2 separate regions of the Homo sapiens genome follow, and region 1 is linked to region 2. The links come from fine-mapping of genetic effects on gene expression. A gene starts in region 2. The other region holds a variant in brackets. All regions are shown on one strand. Distances are between the middles of the regions.

Region 1 (5,377 bases), 39 kb after region 2:
GGATCACCTGAGGTCAGGAGTTCAAGATCAGCCTGGCCAACATGGTGAAACCCCGTCTCTACTAAAAATACAATAATTAGCTGGGCGTGGTAGCAGGAGCCTGTAATTAATCTCAGCTACTCGGGAGTCTGAGGCAGGAGAATCGCTTGGACCTGGGAGGTTGCAGTGAGATCATGCCATCGCACTCCAGCCTTCGTGACAAGAGCGAGACATAAAAATAAAGTAGCAGAGAAAGAGATTTGTGATTGGTAACGTGCAATACAGCACACCTTCTACAGGCATCGCCAAGCCCCGGCTGGCTCCTCTGGCTTCCTCCCACCTGTCCCCTCTCTGTGTCCCCACACAGTTTGCAGAGCCACATTCCAGTGCAAAGAGGACAGCACATGCATCTCACTGCCCAAGGTCTGTGATGGGCAGCCTGATTGTCTCAACGGCAGCGACGAAGAGCAGTGCCAGGAAGGTAGGGCAGGCCTAGCCGAGTGTCTGGAGGGACACCAAAGGCAGTCTAGGCCTGCTACATGCTTCAGCAAAAGTTTCTAGCTTCTCCTCTCAACACCCACCAACCCCTCTGTATTTACATCTGTATGTCTGTCCATTCATCCATCCATCCATCCATCCATCCATCCATCCATCCATCCATCCATCTTCTGGTCTCCAATCACCGTCTGTCCATTGATTCATACAGCTACCCATTTATCTATGCATCTACTGACCTGTGCAACCATCAATCTCCCTATCATCAAACTGTCAATCTACCCATTTATTGGTTTGGCTGACTACTGGTCTATATGGCCACTGTTCCATCCATCCATCCATCCATCCATCCATCCACCCACCCATCTACCCACCCACCCATCCACCCATCCATCATCCATCCGTCCATCATCCATCCATCCATCATCCGTCTATCCATCCATCCATCCATCCATCATCCATCCATCCACCCATCGTCCATCCGTCCATCATCCATCCATCCATCCATCATCCATCCATCATCCATCTATCCATCCATCATCCTTCCACCCATCCGTCATCCACCCATCGATCATCCATCTGTCCATCATCCATCCATACATCATCCATCTATCCATCCATCCATTCATCCATCCATCATCCATGCATCATCCATCCATCATCCATCCATCCATCCATCATCCGTCTATCCATCCATCCATCATCCATCCATCCATCCATCATCCATCCGTCCATCATCCATCCATCCATCATCCATCTATCCATCCATCCATCCGTCCATCATCCATCCATCCATCATCCATCCATCATCCATCCGTCCATCACCCATCCATCCATCATCCATCCATCCATCATCCATCCATCCATCATCCATCCGTCCATCATCCATCCATCCATCGTCCATCATCCATCCATCCATCCATCATCCATCCATCCATCATCCATCCATCCATCCATCATCCATCCATTCATCCATCATCCATCCATTCATCCATCATCCATCTGTCCATCGTCTATCCATCCATCATCCATCATCCATCCATCCATCCATCCATCCATCCATCATCCATCCATCCATCATCCATCAATCCATCAATCCATCATCCATCCATCCATCATCCATCGATCCATCATCCATCCATCCATGCACCCATCCATCATCCATCCATCCATCCATCATCCATCCATTCATCCATCATCCATCCATCCATCATCCATCCATCCATCATCCATCCATCCATGCAACCATCCATCATCCATCCATCCATCATCCATCCATCCATCATCCATCCATCCATCCATCATCCATCCATCCATTCATCCATCATCCATCCATCCATCATCCGTTCATCCATCATCCATCCATTCACCCATCATCCATCCATCCATCATCCATCCATCATCCGTCCATCCATCATCTGTCCATCATCCATCCATCCATCATCCATCCAACCATCCATCATCCATCCATCCACCATCCATCCATTCATCCGTCAGCCATCCATCCATCCATGCACCCATCCATCATCCATCCATCCATCCATCCATCATCCATCCATCATCCATCCATCATCCACCCATCCATCATCCATCCATCCATCTACCCATCCATCCACCCATCCATCCACCCATCCACTGATCTCCCTAGCCCCCTGTCTGTCCACTGGTCCTTATATCCACACGTTTATCCAACCTTCTAGCTGTCTGTCAGTCTCCCTAATGGACCACCACTCCACCCATTGGCTTGTCTGCTCAGTCTTCTGTCTGGGTCTATTTATCCATCCATCCATCTACCCATCCAACTGACCAACTGACCAACACTTGCAGGCTACCCAGCGATAGGCAAGGTGCAGTAAGGAAGTGAGAATAAAACAGCAGAGATGCAGGCCCTGCCTTCCAAGGCTCATCTGTTAGTAGGAGGATATGATGGGTGACTCTCCTGCCTTGTAGGAAGATTGGAGGGCAGGGAGGAGGTCAGACATGAAAAGCTTCCTGGAGGAGGTAGGTGTTTGGCCCTTGGTGAGAGCTAAAACTTAAATAGGCAGGAGGAAAGGAGAGAGGCAAAGACCAAGTGGTGGAGTGGAAAGTTCTTTACAGTGAAGAGCAGGGAGGAAAATGTGGACAACCGGGCAGGGCCAGAGCCTGGGAGATTGCCAGGCTAGGTG[C/G]GGACCCTGGTCTAAAAGTGGAGGCACAGTTCTGCCTTCAAGTTCCACACTGGAGGGGGAGGCATGATCTTGTGGTCAGGATCTCCAGTCTGAGAATGGAGACACCACTTTGTGCTCAATAGGCCAGTCTGAGTGGAGGGGCTGTGGGGGGCGGGGGGACATGGCCTGCTTTTAGGAGACCCTAAAGGAGACTCAGGAAAAGACTCTCTAGTCACCTCCTGGCTCTTCTGGCTCCATCGTTCCTGCACCCCACTTTGGAAGGTTTCCTTGGGGCTCAGAGACCCACCTTCTGTGCCCTGCCCCCATCCCCTCTGTCCCAGGGGTGCCATGTGGGACATTCACCTTCCAGTGTGAGGACCGGAGCTGCGTGAAGAAGCCCAACCCGCAGTGTGATGGGCGGCCCGACTGCAGGGACGGCTCGGATGAGGAGCACTGTGGTGAGCCCTGCCTGGCTGCCGGGGCCCTGGAGCTTGGGAGGGAGGGGGTGCCCACAGCAGGAAGCTGGAGGGAAATCTCACTGTTGTCCCCTGGTCTCTCTCTATCTCATCCTCTGCCCCCTTGCCTGGGTCCTGATGGTCTCTCCCCCTCCATCATTCTCCTGTTCTCTGTCTCTCCATCTCTTTCCTTTGCCCTTCCTCTCTGTCTGCTTCTCCCCTTCCCCTCCTCCTCTGTCCACCCCACCACCTGCCCCCATCCCCAGACTGTGGCCTCCAGGGCCCCTCCAGCCGCATTGTTGGTGGAGCTGTGTCCTCCGAGGGTGAGTGGCCATGGCAGGCCAGCCTCCAGGTTCGGGGTCGACACATCTGTGGGGGGGCCCTCATCGCTGACCGCTGGGTGATAACAGCTGCCCACTGCTTCCAGGAGGACAGGTGAGCGGGAGGGTGTGGGGGCCTAGGCAGTAAGAGACAAGGGCAGGGAAGGCCCGGTGGGAGGTGCACTGTGTCTGAGCTCTTTGCAGATAGAGGGAAGGGTGGTGGACCCCCCAGACAGGCTACTGTGATGTGAGTTCTAGTCCTGGCTCCACCAGGACCTTCTGGGTCCCCGGACACATTGTTCCACCTCTCTGCCATCTACTTTTGGTATCTTGCTTTAAGTTGGGCCAGTAATTCATTCATTCATCTCATTCACTCATTCAGCAACACTTGTGCTCCTACTATGTGCCAGGGCTGTGCTAGATGCTGGGGATTCAGTAAAGGACAGAACTGCCCAACCTGGTCATAAGCTATGACACTCCCCGAGGTGTGACACGAGGTAGCAGGTGGGGCTGGGGAGCCCCCAGGGGACATCTCATCAGGCCTCATGGCCATCTTTCCCATCTGCTTGGTGGGCTGAAACCTCCCCCAATCCACCCCCAGACAGATCTGGGCTCCAGATCCCGCCCCCAGGCCCTGCACAGGGATCCCCTTTTGTATCCTCTCTGGGACGCAGGGCGCTCTGACCACCTAGCTCTCTTTAACCCCATCTCAGGCTCCCCACTGCCCTCAGGTAGAGGGTAGAGACCCGAAGGCTGCCCATCTGCCACCCAGGCAGCTGACTGCCGCAGTCCAATTCCTCCACGCTCAACTCCCACCCGCTCCCCACTAGGACCCACCAGCCTCAGGGAATTCAGAGCAGCCTGGGTCTGTAAAGCACACAGGAAAAAAGAAATCTGTGTCGGGGGCCTGGCACTGTGCTACATTTTTTAGATACACGGTCTTATTGGATTCTCTCAAGAACATTCGAGTAGAAAATGCCATTCCCATTTGCAGATGAGGTGGCAGAGGCTTAGAGAGGCACACCCATGTCTAGGGAGGGATGAAGCTGGGGCGTGGAACCCAGGCAGGCCGAGTGGGTGAAGGCTGAACGCTGTACCACCAGCTAGGCGACCTTCAGGGAGGGAAGGGAGGGCTGGGTGTGGAGGGCACTGTCCCGGGCGGGGATCTGGCTATCTTGAGGGTCCCTGGATGGGGAGAGGCAGCTTCCTCCCACCTCACCTCACCCCACCCCACCCCACCCCACCCCACCCCAGCATGGCCTCCACGGTGCTGTGGACCGTGTTCCTGGGCAAGGTGTGGCAGAACTCGCGCTGGCCTGGAGAGGTGTCCTTCAAGGTGAGCCGCCTGCTCCTGCACCCGTACCACGAAGAGGACAGCCATGACTACGACGTGGCGCTGCTGCAGCTCGACCACCCGGTGGTGCGCTCGGCCGCCGTGCGCCCCGTCTGCCTGCCCGCGCGCTCCCACTTCTTCGAGCCCGGCCTGCACTGCTGGATTACGGGCTGGGGCGCCTTGCGCGAGGGCGGTGAGCAGCGGGGACTTGCGGCGGGAGGCGGAGGGAGACCGTGCGGATCTGCGCCGTAACACCTGGCCTGGAGAAGGGCGGGGCTGGGGGTCCCGGGGCTCCACCCCATAGGCCCTCTAGTGCTGGGATTCAAATTGGGCTGAATTTTACGGTAGAAAACCACCATTTAATGCGGCCTGTAGGCCCCTGCCCCTCCCCTCCTAGCTCTTCCCTTCCTTCTGGAAGGGCGTTATGTGTGGGGCAAAGGGGCAGGTCTGGGACGCCACTGCCCACGTGCAAGCTCCACCTGCTGTTCCTTGGGCTGCAAGGGTGGAAGGCTCTTAATTACTAGCACTTTCCACATCCAGGCTGGATTTTAGGGGAACTTGACTTCATATAATCCACCCAACAGCCCTACGGGCGGATGCTGTGGCCCTATTTTATGGATGGAGAAACCAAGGCTCAGAGACATGTTGCTG
Region 2 (5,377 bases):
CTATGCCCAGCTAATTAAAAAAAATTTTTTTTTGTACAAACAGGGTCTCACTATGTTGACTAGGCTGGTCTCAAACTCCTGGGCTGAAGGGATCCTCCCTCCTTGGCGTCCCAAAGTGCTGGGATTACAGGTGTGGGGGTAAGCCACTGCACCCAGCCACGTCTGTGCTTTCAAACACCTCTCTCAGCATTTTGCTGCTGCTTGCTTATTGCCAGCCCCTCCCCCCAGGCCATGTCGGATCGATGGCCAGGTGGCCGCCAGGTCTAGAGGACGTCGATTGTGCAAGATCGGCTTTTCAGACTGTCGGGCTAGCAGCCTGGGCTGGGGGCCTGGGCCTTTTGACCTTCCAAAGGACAGGATGGGGTACAGAGGCTAGGATCGGGGTGTCTTCACCCCCTACACAAACACACTATCCCTGCTCTGTCTCAAGCATCTGTCCCTCAGGAAGTTTGCAAGGTGGGGCCCAGGGCCTGGGAAGAGGGGAGTTTATGGGGAGGAGGCAGAGTTGTTGGGGCTGGGACGAGGGACAGTGGGCAGGGCTATGGTGTTCGGTCTCAGGGTCAGGGTCAGGCCCATGGGCAGGGGCCAGGACTCTGGGGAGGGCCACAGGAGAAGGTGAGGGAAGGTACCCCCTAACCCAGAATCCTAACCAGCCTGACAGTGCGCCCTCCTGCCCTGGCCCAGCCCTGGCTCTGCCTGGAGATGGTGCTGTACTGAGCTCATGCCCAGCCCCCATGGGCAGGGGCCTTCACACCTTAGGACACAGGGGTGCCCCCCACGCACATGTCAGGGAGGTACCTGCCTACTGCTACAGGCCCCCTTAGGGAGCACACGCCAGAGAGCATGGGGCATCTACGTGCTTGAGACATGCGTGAGGGGCCACACAGGTAGGCACCACACACATGCCACCTGTCATTGCCTGGACTTCAGTGCACAGGCACACCTGGCCCCGACACACCAGCGTGTCACCATGAGAAGAGGAGAAACCCGCTCTCGGCGCCCCCCACAGTGCTGGGCCTTCGCACACGTTGTTTCCCGTTCATCAAGAAGGGGCGAATTTTTTTCATTCGACAGATGGAAGAAGCACCGCTCAGAAGTCAGGGAATCTGCCCAGGTTCCTACAACTAAAAGGGAGCCAGGTAGGGCTGAAAACCGGCGGTCACGGCAAAGCCCGGGCGCGGGGCCCTGTCCCATCCCAGCCAATCCATAAGCATCTCACACTTCACACCCGCTGCACACTCCACTCACACGCCTCACACTCCACACATGCCTCACGCTCCACACACACCTCACACTCCACACACGTCTCACACTACACACACGCTTCACACTCCACACATGCTTCACACTACATACACCTTACACTACACACACACCTCACACTATGCACACACCTCACACTAAACACATGCCTCATATTCCACACATACTGTGAGCATGCACACACACACACACACAGCTGCACACACCTCTCATGCTCCATACACACCTCACACCATACGTACCTCAAAGACACACACACCTTACACTGCACATTCCCAGCACCCACACTGCACACACATGCACAGTCCATATGCCCACACAACACACTTCACACACCCCCCACCCCACACCATACAAACCTCACAGACACACCTCTCACACAAATCTTATACCCCACACACAATCCCTACGCTCCACACACACACACACACACACACACGCACATTCTACACATACATAATCTACACACACAAATTCCAGACTGTCTCTCTTACACACACACTCTGGGACCCATATGCCCACAGCACACAGCATCTCAGGCGTGCACCCCGCATTCTGGCCTCAGGATGTAGACTCGCTGAAAGTCAGCCTTGTCTGAGACAGACGCCCGCTGCCCTGCACGCACCCTAGAAAGCCCTGGCTCCCATCCGGCACTTCGGCACGCATATGGCTCAAACCCATCTCCACAGCAACGCTGTTCCATAGAACAACAACGCAGGTCACACTTGTGACTTAACCTGTCTAATATCCACATGCAACAAGGGGTGTGGTGGCCCGCGCCTGTAATCCCAGCTACTTGGGAGGCTGAAGCAGGAGGATCATGTGGGCCCAGGAGCTCCAGACCAGCCTGGCAACCTAATGAGACCCTGTCTCTGAAAAAAAAAAAAACAAGAGAGCCAGAAGAAAATTGCTTTTAATAATACATTTTATTTATCCCATGATCACCAGTGTTATTTCAACATAAAATCAATATAAAAATTGTTATCGCGTTGGTTGACATCCTGTTTGCACTTGGCCTTGGAAACCTGGTGTGCGTCTCCCCCGTGCAGCTTTTCTCAGTTCAGACTGACTCAAGAGCCACGGGTGACCAGCGGCTACCGTCATGGACAGCACAGCGCTACGGAACCAGGTAGGAATTCATGCTGCGTGCGGTCGCTCATGCCTGTAATCCTAGCGTTTTGGGAGGTCGAGGTGGGTGGAATCACTTGAGGTCAGGAGTTCGAGACCAGCCTGGCTAACATGGTGAAACCCCATCTCTTCTAAAATTATGAAAATTAGCCGGGCATGGTGGTGGGCGCTGTAATCCCAGCTACCTGGGAGGCTGAGGCAGGAGAATTGCTTGAACCCGGGAGGCGGAGGTTGCAGTGAGCCGAAATCACACCACTGCACTCTAGCCTGGGTGACGGAGTGAGACTCCATCTTAAAAAAAAAAAAAAAAAAAAAAAAGAACGAGGTAGGAATTCAAATAATTCCCAGCTAAACAGAAAATAGCATCAAACCCCACCCCTGCCTCCCCTTTCTCCTCTCCAGTCCCCAGAGTATATGGGCCCAGCCTCCTTTTCTCTCTCTCAGGCCAGCAGCTCCTTTAGTCTCGCCTGTCCAGGTAAGCACCTGGACTCACCCTTGTGAGCCCCTGCACTCACCTGCACCGGCCTCTGCACAGTCCCCAGTCCTTGGCTGTCCCTACCTCATGCTCTCGGGGACCAGGGGCTGTAACCAGGCAGGCATGTCACCAGGCAACGGGCCTCGGGGGAGAGCTCAGATCTCCCGCACCTGCCTGCCAGCCTCTGGGGTGCCCATGCGGGGGTGGGGGAAGATGGGGCGGGGCAGGCACTGCCTTCTCCTACCTCCTGCCTGTTTACCTGTACTTAGTCACAGTGCTGTCCAGGACCCAGCAGGAGGAGTTCCATGGAGCCTGAGGCCACAGGCCACAGGGGACAAGGGCCAGACACCCTGGTCATGGCTCTAGGCCATTGATCCAGCCTGGGCTGGCTGGGTGGGGGTGGGGAGGCCTTGGCCTGGACAAACAGAGGCTCCTGAGGCCTGTGTGCAGGCCCGGCACCTATCTGCCGCTCCCAAAGGTAAGCGGGGGCCTCCAGGACAGGGGACCGGGATCTATAAATGACCTAGTGACAGTGTCCACCCTAAGAGCTGGGCCTGGCTCCCTGCAGCCTGAGCCACCTACCCTGCTCCGAGGCCAGGCCTGCAGGGCCTCATCGGCCAGAGGGTGATCAGTGAGCAGAAGGTGAGGGGCCCACAGAGCTGGGGAGGGGAGGGACCACGCAGGGTGACACCAGGTGTGTGGACAGGCACAGCATCAGTGCTGGGTGGTTGGTGGCCTGGGATTCAGGTGGCAGGGACAGGAGGAAGGGAGAGGCCACCCTACCCCTGCCTCGCAGGACTGGACATGCTGCCCCCTCCACACCCGGTACCCCACCTGGGCCTTCTGGTGTAGGAGACAGGCCCGGAGCCCCACATTGCACCTATGTACTGACTTAAGCCCAGGACCCTGGGCTCACAGGCTCAGAGTTGGCATGTATGTGTATGTGTGTTCGTGTGTGTGTCTGTGTAGGAAGGGCGTGCATCTATGAATTTTTGTGTCATGAATAGATGTGCGTATATCCCTCCGCGTGTCTCCATCTGTGTACATCTGTGGGTCTGTGAGTGTGTTTATATGTGTGGAAGGGACCCCCACCCAGTCCCCCACACTCTCAGGACTCTAGGGCCTAATGGTTTCACTGAAAGATGCCCCTATGGCCCTAGCCCAGAGTCCCTGCTCTGCTCTGCTCTGCCCTGGCTGAGGGACCTCGGGTAAGTCATGTTACCTCTCTCTACCTCAGTTTCCCCAGCCATTAAATAGAGTCAGCAAAGTAGGCACCCCAGGCTGTTGGAGGCTGCAGTGGAGTTTGCAGCACTGCCCAGCACAGGGCTGGCACATGGTAGGAGTTCATACGCAGTGGTTGAATCCGGATCTGCATTGCTGGGGGAGTCGCGGCCCCGCCCCAAGGAGCTCAGCCTCCAGCAGGCAGACCCGAGACCCTCCAATGGCCAGAAGGGCAGGAGGGAGTGAGGAGCAGGTGCCAGGGTGGGGTCCATGGTGCTCAGAGCTGGGGGACTGCTTCAGGCCCCTGTGGCAATTGGAGCACAGTCCCCGCTTCCAGGAGTTCAATGTGAGGGGCAAAGAGAGAGTGCCCACAGGTAAGCTGCACATCGCGAGGGGCAGCCGCCCCTTCTAGGGCACTCTGGGAGAGCTGCGAAGAGGTGAGGTCTGAACTGAGGTGACAGGGGCTGCATAAGAGCTGGCCAGGTTGGGAGGTGGGGGCCCAGGCAGAAGGAAGAGTGTGGGGACGCCTGGCCGTGAACAAGCACTGACAGGGCTCAAGGTCCACGAGGGCTCTTGGTGCCGGCTGGCTGCTCTTAATCCATAAATGTTTGCTACCATCCCATTGTTAAAATTTCTCACCAATGGAAGTCCAGTGTCCTTGGGGTGCGACGGGGAAAAGAGAGGGTGGGAAAAAAGGAGGCAGGAGAAGTTGGCCAGGCCACATATGCACACAGCACCTTGGACTTCTGTAGGGAGGAAGGAGCTGGGACCTTGTCATTCATTCATTTAACAATTACTGAGTGTCCGCTGAGTACCAGACTCTGCTCTCATGCAGCTTACAGACAGGGAGGAGGCAGATAAATGACATATTTGCATATCAGGCAATTTAGGCCTCTGTAATTGCTATAAAGAAAAATGCAGGAGAGACGGGAGTGCCCAGGGAAGGCCTCTCTGGAGAGGTGACATCTGACCCTTTGGAGGAGGTAAAGGAGGGAGCCACGAGGCCAGCAGAAAGGAAAACATCCCAGGCCCAGCAAGGAGCAAACCTCCCATTCAGCAAAGAGGACAGGAAAACTGAGACCCTGGGTCTTTAGGGACTGTGTTCTAGGTGGATGGAAGCCGTGCGAGGCTTGTGGGCAGGGCACATGGTGACAACACGCAGTGGCCATTGTGTGAGAACTCACTGGGTAGGGGGGTGGGTGATTGGCTATTGCAGGAGTCGAGGTGACAGATGACGGTGGCCTGGATGATGGTGGGAGTCATGGGGGGCCAAGAAGGGGCTGGCTTTGG

Which allele goes with the higher level. Alleles are on the strand shown, and positions count from the first base shown. SD is a standard deviation of normalised expression in the study named.
As copies of C replace G in region 1, the expression in nucleus accumbens of the gene that starts at base 3,134 in region 2 goes down (small effect, 0.36 SD a copy in GTEx).

The links. PIP is the estimated chance that this variant, and not a neighbour inherited with it, causes the effect.
Region 1: its variant is fine-mapped to the expression of TMPRSS6 in nucleus accumbens (GTEx, PIP 0.93).

Annotation. Positions count from the first base shown.
Region 1 is chr22:37,068,615-37,073,991 of GRCh38, reverse strand. It overlaps TMPRSS6 (transmembrane serine protease 6), which reads left to right. Exons shown (of 18, transcript NM_001374504.1): 13 at 347-460; 14 at 2,960-3,076; 15 at 3,340-3,508; 16 at 4,648-4,919. Among named protein-coding and RNA genes, the nearest start is that of KCTD17, 20 kb to the right of the region's middle. The variant C/G (reference allele first, on the strand shown) is at 2,640.
Region 2 is chr22:37,107,470-37,112,846 of GRCh38, reverse strand. It overlaps TMPRSS6 (transmembrane serine protease 6), which reads left to right and starts at 3,134. Exons shown (of 18, transcript NM_001374504.1): 1 at 3,134-3,344. RefSeq lists an enhancer at 4,403-4,904.